Linked DNA regions of Homo sapiens: region 2 is linked to region 1. Evidence: fine-mapped expression QTL. Tissue or cell type: whole blood. Region 1 holds a variant in brackets; the other region holds the start of a gene. All regions are shown on one strand. Distances are from middle to middle.

Region 1 (7,336 bases):
TTGGCTCACTGCAAGCTCCGCCTCCCAGGTTCATGCCATTCTCCTGTCTCAGCCTCTTGAGTAGCTGGGACTACTTGCGTCCACCACCATGCCTGGCTAATTTTTTGTATTTTTTAGTAGAGACGGGGTTTCACCGTGTTAGCCAGGATGGTCTTGATCTCCTGACCTTGTGATCCGCCTGCCTTGGCCTCCTAAAGTGCTGGAATTACAGGCGTGAGCCACCGTGCCCAGCCTGTTTCTTCCTTTTTTTTGAGATGGAGTTGTACTCTTGTCACTGAGGCAGGAGTGCATTGGCACAATATCGGCTCACTGCAACTTCCACTTCCCGGGTTCAAATGATTCTTCTGCTTCAGCCTCCCGAGTAGCTGGGATTACAGGCATGTGCCGCCATGCCTGGCTAATTTTTTTTGTTTTAGTGGAGACGGGGTTTCACCATGTTGGCCAGGCTGGTTTCGAACTTCTTACCTCAAGTGATCTGCCTGCCTCGGCGTCTCAAAGTGCTGGGATTACAGGCGTGAACCATTGCACCCGGCCGAGTTATATATATATAAAATAAATTCTAAGAGTCTCCTTCTCTATCCCATCTGCTCATTTACCACTGCTTACCCCACTCCCAAAAAATCATTATTAGTTTCTTATGCTTGGAGTCCGTTTATGCATATTTAAGAAAATATATTATTCTTGCCCATTTTTCCACAGAGGAGGCATACTAATTGTAATTTTCATGTTGCTTTCAATTTTTTAACTTTCCATTAAAATTTTCACACATGCAGAAAAGTGGAGTGCTGTGAATCTATAAACCTACCACCTAGATTTAACATGGTTAGTGGTTAGTATTTTGCTGGTTTTGCTTATTTTGCATATATATGTATATAAATGAGCAAAAGGCATATATTTGAGTATGTATAGATTAGCAACAGACAAACACATATATTGATCTAAGCCATCTGAAACTCAATTATAAATATCATGGTATTCCATCCCTAAATACTTTTTTTTTTTTTTTGAGACAGCGTCTCGCTCTGTCTCACAGGCTGGAGCATGTGGTGCTATCATGGCTCACTGCATCCTCCGCCCTCTGGTCTCATGTGATACTCCACACCTCAACCTCCCAAGTAGCTGGAACCACAGGCATGTGCCACCATGCCCAGCTAATTTTTGTGTTTTTTGGTAGAGACGGGATTTCACCATGTTGCCCAGGCTGGTCTTGAACTCTTGGGCTCAAGGGATCCACCGGCCTCAGTCTCCCAAAGAACTGGGATTACAGGTGTGACACCATGCCTGGCAATACTTCACTTTTTTAAGGTAAATTACCACTCAGTCAATGAAGGATTTCAACCAAAAGAGTCACATGATTGGGTATAATAATTACTTGTTTAGGTTGAAGGTGCCTTTGAGGAAGAGAAGACTAGAGGCAGAGAGGCCAATTATTAATAAGTGATTGTTGTACAGGCATGCTTTGGAGATACTGCAGGTTTGGTTCCAGACCACCACTAGATTGTGCAAATACCATGGTAAAGCGAGTCACACAAATTTTTTGGTTTCCCAGTGATAAAAGTTATTTTTCCACCACACTGTAGACTGTTAAGTGTGCAGTAGCATTATGTCTAAAAAACAGTGTACGTACCCTAATTTAAAAATTCTTTACTGCTCAGCTCAAGAATGTTAACGATCATCTGAGCCTTCAGTGGGGTTCTCTTTCCTCTCTTGCCTTCCTATGAATTGGTCCTGCTTGTGACTAGAGGGAAAGAAGTGAACATTTGTTTCTCCGCACACCAGCTCCTTCATGCCAATTACTTAACTAGTTATTTAATTCTACCAGTAATTATTTGCGGTATTATTATCCTTATTTTTGCAGATGAGGAAATTGAAGTGCAGAGTTGTGAAATAATTTGTTCAAGATCATATTGCTCTTAAGTGGCAGATCTGGAATTTTCACGAGTCTGACTGACTGTGAAGTTACTACATGACTGTTATCCAGTTTGTTTCATGAAGTGAAAAATATATGAATGCTGGTAATTTTTGTTTTCTTCTGCATGTATTCATTATTCTTAATGATGTGATCATCAGCCTTTTAAAAAACAATATGTCAGTCCATTTGCAAATACACCACTCTTAGGCACTTTATTTTTGAATTGAAGTATGCAACTTGTACCAACTAGCTTTCCCTTTGATGTAATATTGCCAAACAATGAAATATCATGTCTTATATTGTCACCATATTTTATTTTTGAATTCACTTTTTATTTTATTTTTAATATATTTTTTATACAAATGTAATCTCAGTGGTTTTAGGGCTGATACAGAGAAGTTTTAGACCAAAAGATTCCTAAACCGAAGCAAAAAGTGACAAGTTGGAACACTTGAAAGTGAAGAGAAAATGCATAGCCATCTTAAAAAAAAAAATTAGGAGGTGATCTGTCCAAGATGACACAGTAGCATTAGAGCAGTTGTGAAGCAGATCATCTAATGGCTTTTTGACCCCTTCTGACCTTCAAAAGCGTAAGAAAATAAATTATTCTGCCCTTAAAGACCAAAACGTAGGTTTTTAAGAGCAACATCTTGATTCATTTGAAAATAGTAAACTCTCAAGCTGTAACACTCCCAACCTCAGTCAATGTAAAACAGACATCATACAATTTAAATTCTCGTATGGTAGTCCCTAGAGAAGCACTTGAATAGAGAATTGCTTATCAAACTGTGTCAGTCAGGATCCTAAACCCCAAAATACCTGTAGCTTAAAATAACAGAGATTTATTTCTTGTTCATGTTGCATTTCCCTTGTGGGACAGTCAGGAATGCTACTCCGTGTATCCTCACTTGGGAACTCAGACTAACTACTGTTGGTTACTGGGATGTAGGAAAAGAGGCAGTTAGGCATTGACTTCTAAAGCTACTGCTGGATAATGTCATTTCCCCTTATACTTCACTAATTTAGGTAAGTTACGTTCCTACACCTAACCAAGAAGTGGCAATGGGAGTGTAGTCTCAAAATACGATTAGAAGGAGAATATGATTAATACTGAGTGTCACCTTGATTGGATTGAAGGATGCAAAGTATTGATCCTGGGTGTGTCTGTGAGGGTGTTGCCAAAGGAGATTAACATTTGAGTCAGTGGGCTGGGAAAGGCAGACCCACCCGTAATCTGGGTGGGCACCATCTAATCAGCTGCCAGTGTGGCTAGACTGTAAAGCAGGCTGAAAAACATGGAAAGACTAGACTGGCCTAGCCTCCCAGCCATACATCTTTCTCCCGTGGTGGATGCTTCCTGCCCTTGAACATCAGACTCCAAGTTCTTCATTTTTGGGACTCGGGTTGGCTTTCCTTGCTCCTCAACTTGCAGATGGCTTATTGTGGGACCTTGTGATGGTGTGAGTTAATACTTAATAAACTCCCTTGTTAGTTGTGTCCCTCTAGAGAACCCTGACTAATACAGAGAAGAACTGGAATATGGGTGCCCAGCTGGAATGACTAACAAGCCTTTTGAGGAATATAGAGAATTACGCATGATTGATTGGTAGAATGATTTTTTT[A/T]AAAAAATGCCAAATAGCTTTGAAGTAATCCTGTTTTGATTGAATTAAGGGTCTTGTTGCTGAAAGGTGAACTAGGCAGTTTAGCCAGAAATGTCCAGTAGAGGAGTAAACTGGTTAATTGGACATCCTTTTCCTTGTGTTTTGTCTGTTACATTTTCATAAGCATATTTAAGATTTGCTCTTATGTGCTTGCTTATAACATAAATCTATTAATAAAGATTCACAGTTATCAACTATTTTTATGTAGAACATGTTGGATAATGATGCTATGCAAAGTCTAAAAAATCAAGAGGTTAATAATTGGTAGGACATATAACAAAAACTATCTCATATTTTGTGTTACATAGGCAAGCACTAGTAGTTTTTAAAAAGTATATAATTTGGGAAAATTTGTTCCATGAGGCAGTACAAATGAATAATCATATTGAAGTTCAACAGCTTAATTCTGGACTTCTGAAATTTTCCAAGGAGATGAGTGATTAATAGATACAAACATACTATTTTTATGTACATATGTGAAGAGACTGTCTCTAGGCAGTTATAAATCTTCTTCATCTTTGACAAACTTTTGCATATGTGTCTTTATTGGTGTTGTAAACCAGGGATTATCTGTTTCTTCACAAGGCATGCTCTTTTTAAAATATTGTCGTGGTTTATACATACTATGAAATTTACCATTTTAACTATTTTTAAGTATATTTCATTGGCATTAAGTACATTCACATTGTTGTGCAACCATTACCATCATATATCTCCAGAACTTTTTCATCTTCTAAAACTGAAGTCTGTACCCATTACACAGTAATTCTCTATTCTTCTCTCTCATAAGCCCCTGGCAACTACCATTTTACTTTCTGTTTCTGTGAGTTTGACTACTTTAGATACCCCATATAAATAGAATCATATACTATTCTTTTGTGATTGGCTTATTTCACTTATCACAATGTCTTCATGGTTCTTCCATGGTGTAGCATATATCATAATCTGCTTCCATTTAAGGCAAAATAATATTCAATTGTATGTATATACCACATTTTGTTTACACATTCATCTGCCAGTGGACAGTAGGGTTGCTTCTGTCTTTTGGCTGCTGTGAATAATGCTGCTATAATCATGAGTGTACAGATATCTGTTCTAGTCCCTGCTTTAGTTTGTCTGAATATAAATCCCAAAGTGAAGCTGCTGGATTATATGGTAATTTTATTTTAAATATTTTGAGGAATCACACTACTGTTTTCTGTAATGGCTGTGTCATTTTACATTCCCACCAGCAGTGAGCAAGTGTTCCATTTTCTTCACATCCTTGCCAGTACTTGCTACTTTTTGTTTGTTTTTTTTGGGGGGGGGGGGTGATAATAACTATCGTAATAAATATGAAGTGGTATCTTATGGTTTTCTTTTTCATTTCCCTAGCACTCTTTTGCATGTTTTTGTGTGGACATATGATTTCAGCTCATTTGGGTAAATACCTAGGAGCACAGTTGCTGATCCTATGTTAAAACTATGTTTTAGCTTTGTAGAAAACTGCCAGACTGTCTTCCAAATTGGCTGTACCATTTCGCATTCCCACCAGCGATGAATGAGACTTCTGTTCTCTTCATCCTTTCTCAAATTTGGTGTGGTATTTTGGATTTTAGCCATTCTAATAGGTGTGTAGCACTGTCATTTTAATTTATAATTTCCTAATGACATATGATATTGAGCACTTTTTCATATACTTATTTATCATCTGTATATCTTCTTTGGTGAGGTGTCTGTTTAGATCTTTTGCCCACTTTTCAGTTGGGTTGTTTGTTTTCTTATTGATGAGTTTTGTTGTTGTTGTTGTTTTGAGACGGGATCTCGCTCTGTTGCCCAGGCTGGAGTGCAGTGTGGCGCAATCTTGGCTCACTGTAACCTCTGCCTCCCAGGTTCAGGTGATTCACCTGCCACAGCCTCTTGAGTAGCTGGAATTACAGGCACGTGCCACCATGCCTGGCGAATTTTTTGTATTTTTAGTAGAGATGAGGGGGTGTGGCAGATTTCACCATGTTGGCCAGGCTGGTCTTGACCTCCTGACCTCAAGTGATCCGCCCGCCTCGGCCTCCCAAAGTGCTGGGATTACAGGTGTGAGCCGCTGCGCCCGGCATTGTTGAGTTTTAAGAGTTCTTTGTTTATTGTAGATAAAGTTTCTTAATCAGATATATAGTTTGCAGATATTTTCTCCTAGCATGTGGCTTGTCTTTTCATTCTTTTAATATTAATAGTATCTTTCACAGAGCTAAAGCTGTTAATTTCAATGAAGTCCAACTTATTTATTTTTCATGGATCATTTTTTTGGCATTGTATCTGAAAACTCAGTACCAAACCCAAGGTCACCTAGATTTTCTCTTACATTATCTTTGAGAAATTTGATTGTTTTGCTTCCTACATTTAGGTTCATGAGCCATTTTCAGTTAATTTCTGTGAAAGGTGTAATGTCACTGTGTAGATTAAGTTTTTGCATGTGGATGTCTGGTTGTACCAGCATCATTTATTGAAGAGACTGTCATTATTGGATTGCCCTTGTTTCTTTCTGAGAGATCAGTTGACTATATTTGAATAGTCTATTTCTGTTCCATTCATCTATTTATTTTATAGCTAATACCACAGTCCTTATTACTATAGCTGTGCAGTGTGTAGTAAGTCTTAAAGTCGGGTAATAACAGTTTTCTGACTTCATTCTTCAGTATTGCATTGGCTATTTTGAGTCTTTTGTCTTTCCATATGAATTTTAGAATCATGCCTGGAATAAATCCTGCTTGGTCATGGTATATAAATCTTTTCATGCATTGTTGAATTTAGTGCTAATATCTGTTAAGAATTTTTGCATCTATATTTATAAGAGAATTAGTCTATAGTTTTCCTTTCCTGTAATGCCTTTATCTAGTTTTGATGTTTGGGTAATGCTGGTCCCATAGAATGAGGTACTACATGCTTCTATTTCCTAGAAGAGATTGTAGAGATTTAGTGTCATTTCTTCCTTAAATATTTGGTAGAATTCACCAGGAAACATCTGGACGTTATGGTTTCTTTTTTTGGAAGGTTATTATTGATTCATTATCTTTAATAGATATAGGCCTGTCCCGATTATTGCTCCTTGTGAGAGTTTTAGTAATTCCTGTTTTTCAAATAATTAGCCCATTTCATTTAAGTTATCAAATTTGTGAGCTTAGAGTTGTTCATAATATTTCCCTGTTTTTTTAATGTCCGTGGGATCAGGAGTGATGATACCTGTTTCATTTTATATATTAGGGCTTTGTCTCTCTCTCTCTCTCTCTCTCATCTGTCTGTTTCTCTTTTTTGTTAACCTGACTAAAGGTTTATCAGTTTTAATGCTCTTTTCAAAGAACAGCTTTTGGTTTTGTTTATTTTTCTTTACCAATTTCCTATTTACAATTTCATTGATGTTTACTATAATTTTTTTTATCTTCTTCTTGCCTTAGGTTTATGTTGCCCTTTTTTTTTTTCTAGTTTCCTGTGGTGGAAGCTTAGATTATTGAATTTAGTTAGACCTTTCTTCTTTTCTAATATATGCATTCAGAGCTATAAGTTTTTCTCTAAGCACTGTTTTTGGTGCATCCCACAAATTTTGAACATTGTATTTTCATTTTCATTTAGTTCAAAATATTTTAAAATTTTTCTTGAGACTTTTTTGACCCATGAGTTATTTAGAAGTGTATTGTTTGATCTCCAAGTAATTGGAGATTTTCTAGTTTTCTGTTACTGATTTCTAGTTTAATTCCATTGCTGACTGAGAGCTTGCATTGTGTGGTTTCTATTC
Region 2 (6,378 bases), 30 kb before region 1:
TGGCTTTGGACATGTTCATGTGCTAGCTGCAGGAGCTAATGGGAAAGCCAATATACAGCAACTTTAGTCTCTATCATAGGAGTCAGGCTCTGTCAGCAAGGATGGCGGAGGTGAAAAATGCCTGTAAGACGTAGTTTCTACCATGGGGAGTGACTCTGAAGGATGTGACTCACAGCTGTGATCTGAAGGGCAAGGAGGATGACTAGAGAAGAGGCAAAGAAGTGGACTCTAGTAGTTAACAACTTCTGGGGCAGCACATTGAAATAACAAAATGGCACTTGGACCTAGACATTCTATTAAGCTTAATGGTACAGCCTGTGGTATAGGTGAAATAGTATAAATAAATGAACATACCAAGTTATTTCTGTTCCATTCTAACACCTATATCCTGTATATAAGGTCAGAAAGGACCTCAGGAATGGGCAGCTGAGGGAATCCAGCAGAAAGTGAAGGGAATCAAAGATTCCACTAGGGTTCTGGCAATGCTGATGTTGGATTATGGGCTGTACAAAAGACAAAGAGACTAGAGACCGGGGGCTTTCCTGGGGAATTCAGATCCATGGAAGTTGGGGACTAGAATAGGTGTTAGGTGGAGAGGTTGAGCTTTGGTTGGTAGGGCCAGTAACAGGGCTATAGGAAGTTGCTCTTATGAACACTGGGACACATCCCATTATTCCTTCACATAGAAAATCTTTATTAAAATTCACCCAGACACCAAAGCCACCCTTGGGCTTAAAATTTCTCTCTGAAATAGAGAACCCAGAAATAGCCACACACAAGTATGGCCAACTGATATTTTGACAAAGGTGCAAAAGGGACTCCATGGAAGAAGGATAAACTTTTCAATAAGTAGTGCTAGAGCAATTGGATAGCCACAAGCAAAAACCTGAACCTAAACCTCACACCTATTAATGGAAAACTTAACTCACAAAAATTACATAGACTTAAATGTAAAAGGCAAAACTAAAACAACCTTTGAAAGAAAACAAGATAAAATCTTTAGGATACAGGATTAGAGAATAGTTCTCAGACATGACAGCAAAAGCACAATCCATAAATTTAAAAAATGAATAAACTGGACTTCATCAAAATTAAAAATATTTGTTCTGTGGCAGATCTTGTCAAGAGAATGAAAATACAAACTACAGATTGAAGAAAATATTTGTGAATCATGCATCTGACAAAAGACACATCTAATATATGAAGAACTCTCAAAATGTACAGGTAAAAAACCAAATAATGCTAATTAGAAAATGGGCAAAAGACATAAGGACATTTAACTGAATGGAATATACAGATGGCAGATAAAAACATGAAAAGATATTCAACATTATTAGCCACCAGGGGAATAAATGTAAAACTGTGATGAGGTATTACTGCACATTTATTATTTACTTTAGCTCAGCTAAAACAAAAATAGCAATAATAGAAAATGCTGGTGAGGATATGGAGAAACTGGATCTCTCATACATTGCTGGAGGAAATGTAAAATGTTACAGTTACTCTGGAAAACAGTTTTTAATTTCTTTAAAAAATGACACATACATGTATCACATGACCTGGCAATTGCACTCCTGGGCATTTATCTCAGAGAAATGAAGATTTTTGTCCACATAAAAACCTGTATTCAATTGTTTGCAGCAGTTTTATTTGTAATGGCCCCAAATGGGAAACAATCAAAATGTTCTGCAATAGGTGAATGGTTAAACAAATTGTGGTACATCCATGTCATGGAATATTACTCAGCAATAAAAAAGGAATGAACTATTGATAAACACAACAACTTGGATGGGTCTCAAGTGCATTATGCCAAGTGAAAGAAGCCAATCTTAGAAGGTCATGTACTGCATGAGTCCATTCATATAACATCTCAAAATGTCAAAATTATAAAAACAGAAACAGAGATCACTAGGGTTAGGAGGGCAGGTGTTACCAAAAAGGTTAGCACTAGGGAGATCTTTGTGAGGGTGGAATAGTTCTGTATCTTGATCATGGTGGTGGTTACACAAAATATGTAGTAGAATGACATAGGACTACACAAATACTTTATATCAATGCCAGTTTCCTGGCTTTGATACTGTACTAGAGTTATACGAGATGTAATCACTGGGGGAAACAGGTACACAAGACATCTGTACTATCTTTGCAACTTCATGTGAATCTATAACTATTTCAAAATGAAAAGTTTGAAAGAAAATTTTCTCTGAGGCATCTCTCCCTTGCCTTCCTTCATCTTGTGCATTTCTTTCCCTGAGTATGACTTTTTCTCTTTCTTTCTCCCTTTCCCTTATGTACTGGGTTTTCCTTTAACGGTCCATAATGCCAAACTATGTCATTCCCCATCCTCCTATTGTTCCTATTTATTTAATGAAGGTTATGTTTTCATGTGCTTAATTTTAAAAGCAGGAAAGTACTAACTCTTTAAACAAATTTCTTAAAAAACAAAACCCAAAACTAACCTGCTTTTTATTTTATATAATTCAGTTAGTCATTATTCTTTAAGGTCGGAAGTCCACAATACAAACATGTTTCCAACACTTGTATTGGAAGATAATTTTTGTTTTATATGCATGGAGCATTAATATCATTCTTCATGTCTATGGATTATGAACACACACACATTCAGGATTTACTGGGGAAACAGTGACATCAAATATTATGTTCTATTGATTCTTCATATAAATCTACATGTCAAAAAATAATCCTTTGCCAGATCACGTATCCAGATTTTTCGTTTGGAAAATACGAACATTACTACTACAGAATATCAAACTGAATACAGCCCTGTCCTGAGGGCTTGCAAAGTGAATCTGGCAATACTTTGGAAAAGTACTACTGCAGGTTCTCAAGGACCCAAAGAGCTCTCCAGCTTTTCCAGTGGGTTCAGCCCCAAATATCCTAATTTCTTCAATAAATTACGAGTTGCAGGTGTTTAAATATGCAAGTATATTTTGGTCTTTTCGTTATCATTGTAAAACACCAGTCCTAACAAGCAGTAAAGATTACACTTTATGGTGGTAATATTTACAGTTAATGCACTTCTGCATTTCTTCCCGCACATTTTTCTTCTTACTTATTTAAACTAAGCGTTTCCCCTCTTTTTTTAAGCCCCAGTATTAAAAAGAAAATAAAATCCCAAAGAATTTCGCAACATTGCGATTGCACTGGCTTGAGAACGAAGGAAGTTAGTCCCTTGCGGTGATCCGTCCTTTCATCCTGGCGTTTGCCTGCAGCAAGATGGCGGCGGTGTCAATGTCAGTGGTACTGAGGCAGACGTTGTGGCGGAGAAGGGCAGTGGCTGTAGCTGCCCTTTCCGTTTCCAGGGTTCCGACCAGGTAATAGAATTTTCACACTTTTCTTCAAGCTTCTTGGGTCCCTCCATTTTTGCGGAGTCTCTGCTGGCTGAGTTCCGGAGGAGGCCTCGGGGAAGGCGTCCTCTGTTGACCCTTTTCTCGGGAGAAGTCGGGCGGACTAGGGACTGTCTGCTATCAATGGGCGTTGGCCAGGCGAGTGAGGGCGTGAGTGCGAGGCCGGGGAGGAGGACCTGTGGTTTTCTGGAAGCTTTCGTATTCGGCTTGTCGCTGAGGGAGAGGGTCCGTGGAGGTTTTGCCTCCGGAGCTGCAAGCTGAACCTTAGCCCTCAGAGAAGGGGAGGAGTCTCACTGATTTCTGTTTCCACTTTCTGCATCCCTTCCATTTGTCACCTGTTTGCCCACCACTCCAGTCCTTACAGAAGGGTTAAATCACTGTATCCCTTCCATGGTTTTAAGTGGTTTTAATTTGGTTTCTGCATAGGAAGATTGTTTATTCATCAGTCTGCTTGGGAGGAAAACTTGTTTGGAATTCAGTGTTAGTAAAAATATCACTGCTAGTAATATTGGAAGGTAATTTTTAAAAGGCTGGTGGTAATGCCTGGAGGTTTTCTAGGGATTTTGTTAAAGCCTCACAATAATTCAGGGATTGAATTGAGTTGTTGAGGGCTCTTTGCGTCCTTGAGAACCTAAAGTAGTACTTTTCCAAAGTATTGTCAGATTCAGTTGTCAGTTGATTGAGTTGTTACTGTTTTTCCTTGAAGCATTTTTGTGATGATTTTTTTTTTTTTGGCTGTATTAACCTTCCATTTTCTATTTTTCAGAATTTCCTGGAGTTTTTTAAATTATAGTACTAATGCTATACGTACATACACACACATATTAGAACAAAGATTGGAAAGACTGGATGGAGAGATTTGAAGGGGGTAGGAGGTGGATGCAAGTGGTTAAAAGTTGAAAGGAAGGTCTAGTAGAATGCTAATTGATTTAGTGTTAAATATAAATGGAATGCAGAGAATTAGGATGAGTTAATTCGGAAGAATTTTTAAGGATGAGTTTTATTAAGGTTTAAATATAGTGGGTGTTGGGTGGGAAAGAAGAGAGTGTCCCGTAGGGTCCGTGGCTTATGAAAAGGCTTGAAAGCATTAGTTAAACGATTACTAAATACATAGAATAGAGTCACTCAAAAGTAAGGGTGCTAAGATTGGGGAAAGGCAAATGATGTTTGTAATTAAGTGTTCCATATATGGAAAGTATTTTTCCTTTTTCTTTCTCTTTTTTTTTTTGAGATACATTCTCACTCTGACGCCCAGGCTGTAGTGCAATGGCGTGATCTTGGTTCACTGCAACCTCCGCCTCCCGGGTTCAAGCAGTTCTCCTGCCGCAGCCTCCTGACTAGCTGGGATTACAGGCGCGCACCACCACACCTGGCTAATTTTTGTATTTTTAGTAGAGGCGGGGTTTCACCATGTTGGTCAGGCTGGGTTAAGTATTTTTCTAAGGTAAAATACTTCACTGGTTAACTTAGAGTTAATATAGCGGTGACCAAGATTAGCCCTTCCTCCCGTACAGATTATAGGGATTAATTGTCATTCCCAGATAATAATGTACTCATGGTAGCCCCAGAACTGAAAACAAGTTTGAAGGGACCACTGGTTTATGGCTAATCAAAACATGGCTGTAATTTTAAGTCAAAGCCATTTTGTCAGCAATTATAGTAATTGAAGTTGAGATTAGATTTTTGAAACTCTGATGATAATTGTTACTACATATCCAAACTTAAGAGTTTTTGCCTGCAAATGTAAGAGATTTGAAAATAAATCATTTAATCTTGAAAAAAAATCTTAATGCCAGGGAAGACGTTTTTTAAATACAAATTAACACATTTATTTGTTTTCTGTGCCACATTTTTACCCTAAGAGCTTGTCATGTTCATCCTAATTTGAGGGAAATTTATAGACCCTCTCCCTTACATATTGTTTGTTCTTCATCCTTAAGCATTCTTTTTCCATTATGATTTGATAGTAATGAGGATCTGAAAAAGGTGAGTAGAAAGAACCAATTAATGGGAAAATCTACATCTAAAATTCATTTTATTGTAATGCTTAGAAAAACATTTGCAAATCATGTAACATTTCAGATCATTTGAATAGAATATGGGAAGTGGAATCAGTAAGGTAAGGAGTGGAGTAGGGAACTGAAGGAAAGGAAGGGCCGGGCGCGGTGGCTCACACCTGTAATCCCAGCACTTTGGGAGGCCGAGGCGGGCAGATCACAAGGTCAGGAGATCGAGACCATCCTGGCCAACACGGTGAAACCCCGTCTCTACTAAAAATACAAAAAATTAGCCAGGCGTGGCAGCGTGCGCCTGTAGTCCCAGCTACTCAGGAGGCTGAGGCAGGAGGATGGCGTGAACCCGGGAGGCAGAGCTTGCAGTGAGTCAAGATCGCGCCACTGCACTCCAGCCTGGGCAACAGAGCCAGACTGTGTCTCAAAAAAACAAAAAAAAAAAAAAAAAAGAAAAGGAAGGATGCTGTTAGCTGCTACATTAACATATTAATTCAATTATAGTATATCATCAGTGAAAAGCAAAACAAAGAATGCAACAACACATACACACAAGAGAGAAAAAATCTAGTAATGTGGGTGATTGAGCTGATCTAGTTACTTACTGAGCTTGTGCTGTAGTGTTGGTCTCAGTTTCCATGTGCTTCTCATTTCCCTGTACCGAATGTGAGGAGGCAAAAAAAGGGGTTAAATTGTCTACATTTTTTTTTTTTTTGGAGATGTAGTTTCGCTCTTGTCACCCATTCTAGAGTGCAGTGGCACAATCTCAGTTCACTGCAACCTCTGCCTCCCGGGTTCAAGCGATTCTCCCGCCCCAGCCTCCAGAGTAGCTGGGATTACAGGTGCCCACCACCTCGCCCAGCTAATTTTTTTATTTTTAGTAGAGATGGAGTTTCACCGTGTTAGCCAGGCTGGTCTCAAACTCCTACCCACAGGTGATCCACCCGCCCCGGCCTCCCAAAGTGCTGGGATGACAGGCGGGAGCCACCGCGCCCATCCCT

What was found. PIP is the estimated chance that this variant, and not a neighbour inherited with it, causes the effect.
Region 2: it holds the start of NDUFS4, and the variant in region 1 is fine-mapped to the expression of NDUFS4 in whole blood (TOPMed, PIP above 0.99).

The regions. Positions count from the first base shown.
Region 1 is chr5:53,586,590-53,593,925 of GRCh38, forward strand. The region is part of intron 1 of NDUFS4 (NADH:ubiquinone oxidoreductase subunit S4); the gene reads left to right. Among named protein-coding and RNA genes, the nearest start is that of NDUFS4, 30 kb to the left of the region's middle. The variant A/T (reference allele first, on the strand shown) is at 3,535.
Region 2 is chr5:53,557,426-53,563,803 of GRCh38, forward strand. It overlaps NDUFS4 (NADH:ubiquinone oxidoreductase subunit S4), which reads left to right and starts at 3,214. Exons shown (of 5, transcript NM_002495.4): 1 at 3,214-3,335. The coding sequence starts at 3,238. RefSeq lists an enhancer at 3,116-3,615.